Linked DNA regions of Homo sapiens. The protein of the gene in region 1 purifies or fractionates together with the protein of each later gene. This does not show direct contact. Each region holds a gene or a part of one and is shown in the gene's direction. Other genes may lie near its edges. The genes, in order: LYSMD4 and MCOLN1.

Region 1 (3,847 bases):
GAAAGATCTCAAGGGTCTCATGCATTAGATTCAGGACATAGTGAATTAAAAATGTCCCCTACCCCAAATCAGTTACAATAACAGCAGTTGCTGAATAATAATGGAAATGATTGATTTGATTGAGATCTGTTGGCTGTATTCACTTTCTAGTTTAAGTGGACTTAAGTGTTAAAAGTTTGGAGTTCATCTCTGATGCTTTTGGAAAGTTTTCAAACATTAGTTTGAGGGAGGGGTTACCCTTTGACTTACATTCTCCCTGCTTCTTAAATCTTCGTGTTTGATTATGAGAGGAGTTTGTCATGAACTTTGTTACTTGATAAAACTCACAGCATTATTCCTTTTTCCTGACAGTTAAGTACAGTAACTGTAAGTCACTTTTATTTAATAAGTTTACATGCCCCACAGTGTTTCTGGGAAAGAAAATGCCGAGGGCATATCTGTCAACTTTATTACAGGTAAACTGGATTTTGAGTGTGTCTGCAGAGCTGGCTGAGGCTGTGTGTTTGGTGAATGCTAACATCTGGCAGCCACTGAGTTCTGGCATGAGGGGGAAGGCAGGCAGATGGGGGCACTATTGCCTCAAAAGTGAAAGGTGGAAAAGGCTGCAACATTCCTTTCAGTGCCATGGTGGTTTCGCCCAAAGCGATTTGTTGCAGTCACACTTTAAACAGTTTAAGAAAGATCTGTTTTTCAAAACTGATCTTAAATTGTTCAAACCTGTAAATCTTTAGGAATATCTGATTACTAAACTATATATTGAGGTTGAGTGAAAGCCAAAAAAACAAAATTTCAGCCTAAACTAACTTTGTGTACAGCTGCAGTTTTCCAGTCTTCATCAGATTCGTCAGTGAAGTGGGCTTGAATCATCACCCAGAAAGATTAAGAGCCACTTTTTGGAAAGTTATTTTTAAGGAGCTCCGCATATTTTATGATGTTTATCTTCGTGCCTTCCTAGGTTGCAGATATCAAGAAAGTCAACAACTTCATCAGAGAACAAGACTTATATGCTTTGAAATCTGTTAAGATTCCAGTGAGAAACCATGGGATCCTGATGGAGACCCACAAAGAACTGAAACCCCTTCTGAGCCCGTCTTCCGAGACCACAGTGACCGTGGAACTGCCAGAGGCAGACAGAGCAGGCGCGGGCACCGGTGCCCAGGCCGGCCAACTGATGGGCTTCTTTAAGGGGATTGACCAGGATATTGAGCGTGCAGTGCAGTCAGAAATCTTTCTACATGAAAGTTACTGCATGGACACCTCCCATCAGCCACTGCTCCCGGCACCTCCGAAGACGCCTATGGATGGTGCAGATTGTGGCATTCAGTGGTGGAATGCTGTTTTCATCATGCTGCTGATTGGTATTGTCTTGCCTGTCTTTTATTTGGTCTACTTTAAAATACAAGCTAGTGGTGAGACCCCTAATAGCTTGAACACAACTGTCATCCCCAATGGCTCGATGGCAATGGGTACAGTTCCAGGGCAAGCCCCCAGACTAGCAGTTGCAGTGCCAGCCGTCACTTCTGCAGACAGCCAGTTCAGTCAGACCACCCAAGCGGGGAGCTAAGCTTTGTTTTTAAAGACTAGGCCCAGCTTTAGCAATTGGCTGTTGATGTGCCTCAGCTGTCACTGGCGATGTCCTAGGGGTGCTGCATTTTGCTTCCGGGGAAGGATGGACACTTTTCAGAAGTCACTGCAGTATTCCCAATTGCACTGGCCCTGGGCATGGCCTTACCCAGTCTAAGCTGGCAGGATCTAAAACAGCAGCGACCTCGGCCCCTATCCAGAGAGGTGCAGCAAGAGAGCCATTTCCCTGTGACATTTAGTGGACTGGCCAGTTCATAGCAGCACTGTGAGGACCCCCAAGTTGGACGTGCTCGGAGGGAAAGATTTATGGCCTCTGTCGAGGGACCTGCAGCGTGAGAGCCAGTGGCATCTGCGCGGCTTGCCTGGCTCTTGCTGTATCCTCACTTCCTGTGGAGCGGGGATTGGCTCTGAGAAGGAGTGTTCTCTGTCTGCCTGGCAAAGGTGCTGTGGAATAGGCTTGGCATGCCACCCTGTTTTAGAGAGTGACAGTTACAGTTGTAACAAGCCTACTTCATATTGGCCCCCTCAGTTAGCCTTTTTGAGGCAATGCCATTTCTAGAGTTGAAAAAGCCCTGGACCCAAACTGCGGCACTGTTGAATAAAGGGCAGTCCTACTCCTGTCCTTTTAGAGTGGCTTAGTGTGACACACAGGCATCTCCCAGGCCAAGCACACACAGGCTGCGCCCAGTTCCGCAGGAGCCGTCCCACAGCGTGGCTCTCTGGATTCTCCCACTTGTCCTCCTTGGAAGGAGCTCTTGCTGGCCAGTGTTTGGAGGGGAGGATGAGTGCCTGTCACTGAGGCCTCACTATGGTTGGCGTCTGAAGCTGGGCGGTCGTCAGGCCTGTGCTGAGAGCCGCAGCCCCTGTGCACACCTAACACAGGGCGCTCCCCCTGCTGCTTCCCTGGCTCAGTTCTTCGGAGCTCCAGAGTGAGAAGGCCGCTTCGTCCTTTTTCTCTGGGTGATGCCCTTAGAATAACACTATATGCAATGTAACTCACAATGTTCCAGGACCAAAGACTTGATGGAGGGGCTAGAGGCGACCCTTGTTGTAAAAGGCGATCAGAACACCTGAGGGAGGAAGGGGCTTGCAGTTTTCCCAGCCCTTCTCGCTGCCAAGGCAGCAGTGGTGCTGTGGATGGGCTGGGGACTGCGGGACAGAGCCTGCTACTACTTGGGAGTTGGTGCTGCCCTGTGGCATGGAGGGGTGGGAGGGGCTGAGATGGCTGCTGGCCCGGCCTCCAAGAGTTCTGGACAGGAGGCAGACACTGCCCAGATGCTCGGTGGAGGGACAGTGATGGCCTTTGACTCATGAGGCCTGGAGAAAAGTATCAAAGGTCTCACCATGTAAGAGTGATTTCCGATTTCTCTCCTTTCAGTTGTGTGAAAAAACAGCTGGCCTGGGTTCCATTAGCAAATTAAATCATCTTCAATCTTAAATTAGAAACCAGAATGATCTTCAGGATAAAAAGAACTTCTGAATCTCTGCAATAGGAAATGTTTCGATCATGCAAGTGCTTTCCCAGCCAAATGTCTGTGCTCTCTGTGTCACTGAGGGCCACAGGTTCCTCTAACATCTGTCACTGTCACTTCACCAGGCAGGCCTTGGAGTTCCATGACAAAATCACTTTTGTCAGACAAAGAATGTATCCTTTACTTTTCTCAAATGGAATAAAATTATTTCTTCTGTGGAGGAAAATTGATTCCCCCTTTTTATTTAATTTTTTTTTGGAGACAGTCTCACTCCTTCCCCCAGGCTGGAGTGCAGTGGTGCGATCTGGGCTCACTGCAACCTCCACCTCCCGGGTTCAAGCGATTCTCCTGCCTCAGCCTCCTGAGTAGCTGGGATTGCTATCACACATCACCATGCCTGGCTGATTTTTGCATTTTTAGTAGAGATGGGGTTTAGCCATGTTGGCCAGGCTGATTTCGAACTCCTGACCTCAGATAATCTGCCCACCTCAGCCTCCCTAAGTGCTAGGATTACAGACGTGAGCCACTGCACCTGCCTCAACCTTTTAAAATTTGGGGATTGATAATTTAGCGTTAAAAGATGTGGGATGCTGCTGGAGAAGATGGAGGTGTCTGTCAGGAGTGAGGACTGTGCCTGTTCCCTGCACCTGGCCACCAACTTGGGGCTTGTACTGTGCCCGAGGTTACTCAGACAGGTGCAGGACAAAGTGGTGACCAGTGCTCTAGGGATGATTGATCACTGATTGATCTGTATACAGGCTTTAATATTGCTTTATTAGGTGTATATAAGA
Region 2 (3,814 bases), on another chromosome or scaffold:
GCCCCCCAAAGGAAGGGCTGGGCCAGATAGGTTGACGCAGCTCCCACCCGCAGAACTTGGCGAGCTACGACGTCTGCAGCATCCTCCTGGGCACCTCGACGCTGCTGGTGTGGGTGGGCGTGATCCGCTACCTGACCTTCTTCCACAACTACAATGTGAGTTTTGCACATGCAGCTGGGCCTTCCACATGGTTACTCCACACCCTCCAAATAAATCCCTACACACGCAGCCCTCACCAGCCCCGGCCAATGGCCCCTTGCAAGCCTCCTCCTCCTACCTGCCCACACCAGATATATCTGTCACTGCACCTGCGCGGGGCCCCGGGAGCCTGCTCCTTTGTGCCCACCCAGCTGAGTCTAGCCGTGCGTTGCCCTCGGACCCCCTCAGACGTGGCCACGCCCCCTCTAGGCACCCACTGGCTCCCATGACCACACCGGCTGTGCCCTCGGCAAGGCCCCGCCCCTCCCACCCCCATCTGGGTGCCCACAGCTGACCTGAGTTGTGGCCACACCCTCAACGAGGCTCCCTCTGCCCCAACCCAGATCCTCATCGCCACACTGCGGGTGGCCCTGCCCAGCGTCATGCGCTTCTGCTGCTGCGTGGCTGTCATCTACCTGGGCTACTGCTTCTGTGGCTGGATCGTGCTGGGGCCCTATCATGTGAAGGTACATCTAACCCCTGATGTCCCTGACATTGACCCTGTGACCTTGTCATTGACACTGTGACCCCCAGATGACCCCTTGGTGACTGCTGGGAGTCTGTCCACTGTCCCCTGTGGTCCTTGGTGACCCTGACACTGACCCTGTGCCATTATTGTTGTCACAGTTGTTGATGACCCTATTTCGACCTGAATTACTCCCCTCCTGCTCTATCTACCCAGACCCTAGGTCGGCCCTGTGGCCCTGTCATTGACCCGTGGTCCCGGCCATTCACATGGGACCCCAGCCTGGGACCTGGCCATTCACATAGTGACCCCAGCCTGGGACCCGGCCATTCACGTGGGACCCCAGCCTGGGTCCCGGCCATTCACGTGGGACCCCAGCCTGGGACCCGGCCATTCACAGGGGCCCTAGCCTGGAACCCGACCATTCACATGGTGACCGCAGCCCGGGACCCGGCCATTCATGTGGGGCCCCAGCCACCAGCTCCTAGCCATTTGCATGGGACCCCAGCCTGACCCCAGCCCCCGGTTCCTGGCCATGCCTTGGCTCCCTCTGACCCCGCCGCCCCTCTGGCAGTTCCGCTCACTCTCCATGGTGTCTGAGTGCCTGTTCTCGCTCATCAATGGGGACGACATGTTTGTGACGTTCGCCGCCATGCAGGCGCAGCAGGGCCGCAGCAGCCTGGTGTGGCTCTTCTCCCAGCTCTACCTTTACTCCTTCATCAGCCTCTTCATCTACATGGTGCTCAGCCTCTTCATCGCGCTCATCACCGGCGCCTACGACACCATCAAGGTCAGCCGCATGCACCCAGCCCTGAGCTCGGGCTCTGGGTGCCCTGGAGTCTGCCATGAGGGGGTCTTGGGGACACCGCAGGGTGAACAGAGAAGACCCAGGAGAGAATATGGGAGACTCTATGAAACCAAAAAGAGGGTGGTTCAGAACTGGGGGGCGCAGGGGGATGTCAAGGTGGGCTTGGGCCAGGAGGGGGCCTGAGTCAGTCTTTGCCAACAGGGCAACCGAGTCATAGAGTTTATTTATTTATTTGTTTATTTGAGACGGAGTCTTGCTCTGTCACCCAGGGTGGAGTGCAGTGGTGCGATCTTGACTCACTGCAACCTCCACCTCCCGGGTTCAAGCAATTCTGTCTCAGCCTCCTGAGTAGCTGGGACTACAGGCACACGCCACCACGTCCAGCTAATTTTTGTATTTTTAGTAGAGATGGCATTTCACCGCATTGGTCAGGCTGGTCTCAAACTCCTGGCCTCAGGAGATCTACTGCCTTGGCCTCCCAAAGTGTTGGGATTACAGGCGTGAGCCACCACGCCCGGCCTATTTTATTTTATTATTAAAGTATTGTTCTTTATTTTATTAGAGACAAGGGTCTCACTGTGTTACCCAGGCTGGTTTCAAACTCCTGAGGTCAAGTGATCCTCCCACTTTGGCCTCCCAAAGTGCTGGGATTACAGGCGTAAGCCACCACACCCAGCCTATTATTATTATTTTTTTTTTGAAATGGAATCTTACCCTGTGGCCCAGGCTGGAGTGCAATGGCATGATCTCGGCTCACTGCAACCTCCACCTTCTGAGTTGAAGCGATCCTTGTGCCTCAGCCTCCTGAGTAGCTGGGATTACTTGCACGTGCCACCACACCTGGCTAATTTTTGTATTTTTACTAGAGATGGGGTTTCACCACGTTGGCCAGGCTGGTCTCGAACTCCTGACCTCAGGTGATCCACCTGCCTTGGCCTCCCAAGGTGCTGGGATTTCAGGCATGAGCCACTGAACCCAGCTAAGTCATACAGTTTCAATGACCTTGTCATTGACCCTGGGACGTTGCCATTAACATGGTGATCCTCAGCTGGCCCCATTCCTATGGCGGACCTCTAAAAACCCAACCCTGACCCCAGCCCCCAGCCATGCCCCCGACTCCCTCTGACCCTGCCCAAGGTTAGCTTCTTTATTTATTTATTTTTTTTGAGACGGAGTCTCGCTGTGTCACCCAGGCTGGAGTGCAGTGGTGCAATCTCGGCTCACTGCAACCTCTGCCTCCCGGGTTCAAGCGATTCTCCTGCCTCAGCCTACTGAGTAGCTGGGATTATAGGCACACGCCACCATGCCTGGCTAATTTTTGTATTTTTAGTAGAGATGGGGTTTCACCATGTTGACCAGGCTGGTCTCAAACTCCTGACCTTGTGATCCGCCCACCTCAGGCTCCCAAAGTGCTGGGATTACGGGCGTGAGCCACTGTGCCCGGCCCAGGTTAGCTTCTGAGCAGTAAAACTGGGCTCAACCCAGGGCTGTCTGATTCCAGAAGCCGTGCTCCTAACCCCTCTGTCCTCAGTTTAGTAGGGTGGCTGGGAACAGTGGTTTCCCTGCAAGCTGCAAGGGTCAGGGGACAGAGCAGGATGCGGAAGTGGCAGGTAGATAGGATTCTTTCAGCAGATATATCTAAGGGCCAAGATCTGTGCTGGGTTCTGGGCATGGAGGAAAATCAGGTGTGCATGATCCGTCCAAGGCCTGTGGGCAAGGATGGCACAGGAACAGACATCCCATGACCAATGACCTACTTGTAACAGGTATGAAGGAAGAGTGGAAGGTTGCAGAGGGACCCCTGCTTTAGATTGGTATGACAGGAGATCCAGGAGAGCTTCTAGAATGTTCTATCCATCACTAGTCTCTAGCCCTATGCAGCTATTTAAATTTTGATTTTAATTCCGGCTGGGCACGGTGACTCACGCCTGTAATCCCAGCCCTTTGGGAGGCCGAGGGGGGGTGGGGGTGGATCACCTGAGGTTAGGAGTTCGAGACCAGCCTGGCCAACATGGCAAAACCCCATCTCTACTAAAAATACAAAAAATTAGCGGACGTGGTGGCAGGCACCTGTAATCCCAGCTACTCCGGAGGCTGAGGCAGTAGAATTGCTTGAACCTGGGACGTAGAGGTTGCAGTGAGCCGAGATCAAGCCACTGCACTCCAACGTGGGCGAGAGACCGAGACTCTGCTTCAAAGACAAAACAACAATTTTTTAAAAATTTTAATTCAAATGAAGTACAATTGCAAATTTAGCCTCTGACTTGCACCATCCTGTATCCAGTGCTCAAAAGCCAGTGTGGCTGGTGGCTGCCATATTGGACAGCATAGATATTGAATAC

The links.
Region 2: the proteins of LYSMD4 (region 1) and MCOLN1 fractionate together in Homo sapiens (co-fractionation; one large-scale study listed by BioGRID). This does not show direct contact.

What each region holds. Positions count from the first base shown.
Region 1 is NC_000015.10:99,726,840-99,730,686, reverse strand, and holds the end of LYSMD4 (lysM and putative peptidoglycan-binding domain-containing protein 4), read left to right. Parts: intron 1-955; coding exon 956-1,564; 3' UTR 1,565-3,282; downstream 3,283-3,847.
Region 2 is NC_000019.10:7,529,048-7,532,861, forward strand, and holds part of MCOLN1 (mucolipin-1), read left to right. Parts: intron 1-53; coding exon 54-155; intron 156-542; coding exon 543-665; intron 666-1,238; coding exon 1,239-1,454; intron 1,455-3,814. UniProt on the Homo sapiens protein: Nonselective cation channel probably playing a role in the regulation of membrane trafficking events and of metal homeostasis. Acts as a Ca(2+)-permeable cation channel with inwardly rectifying activity.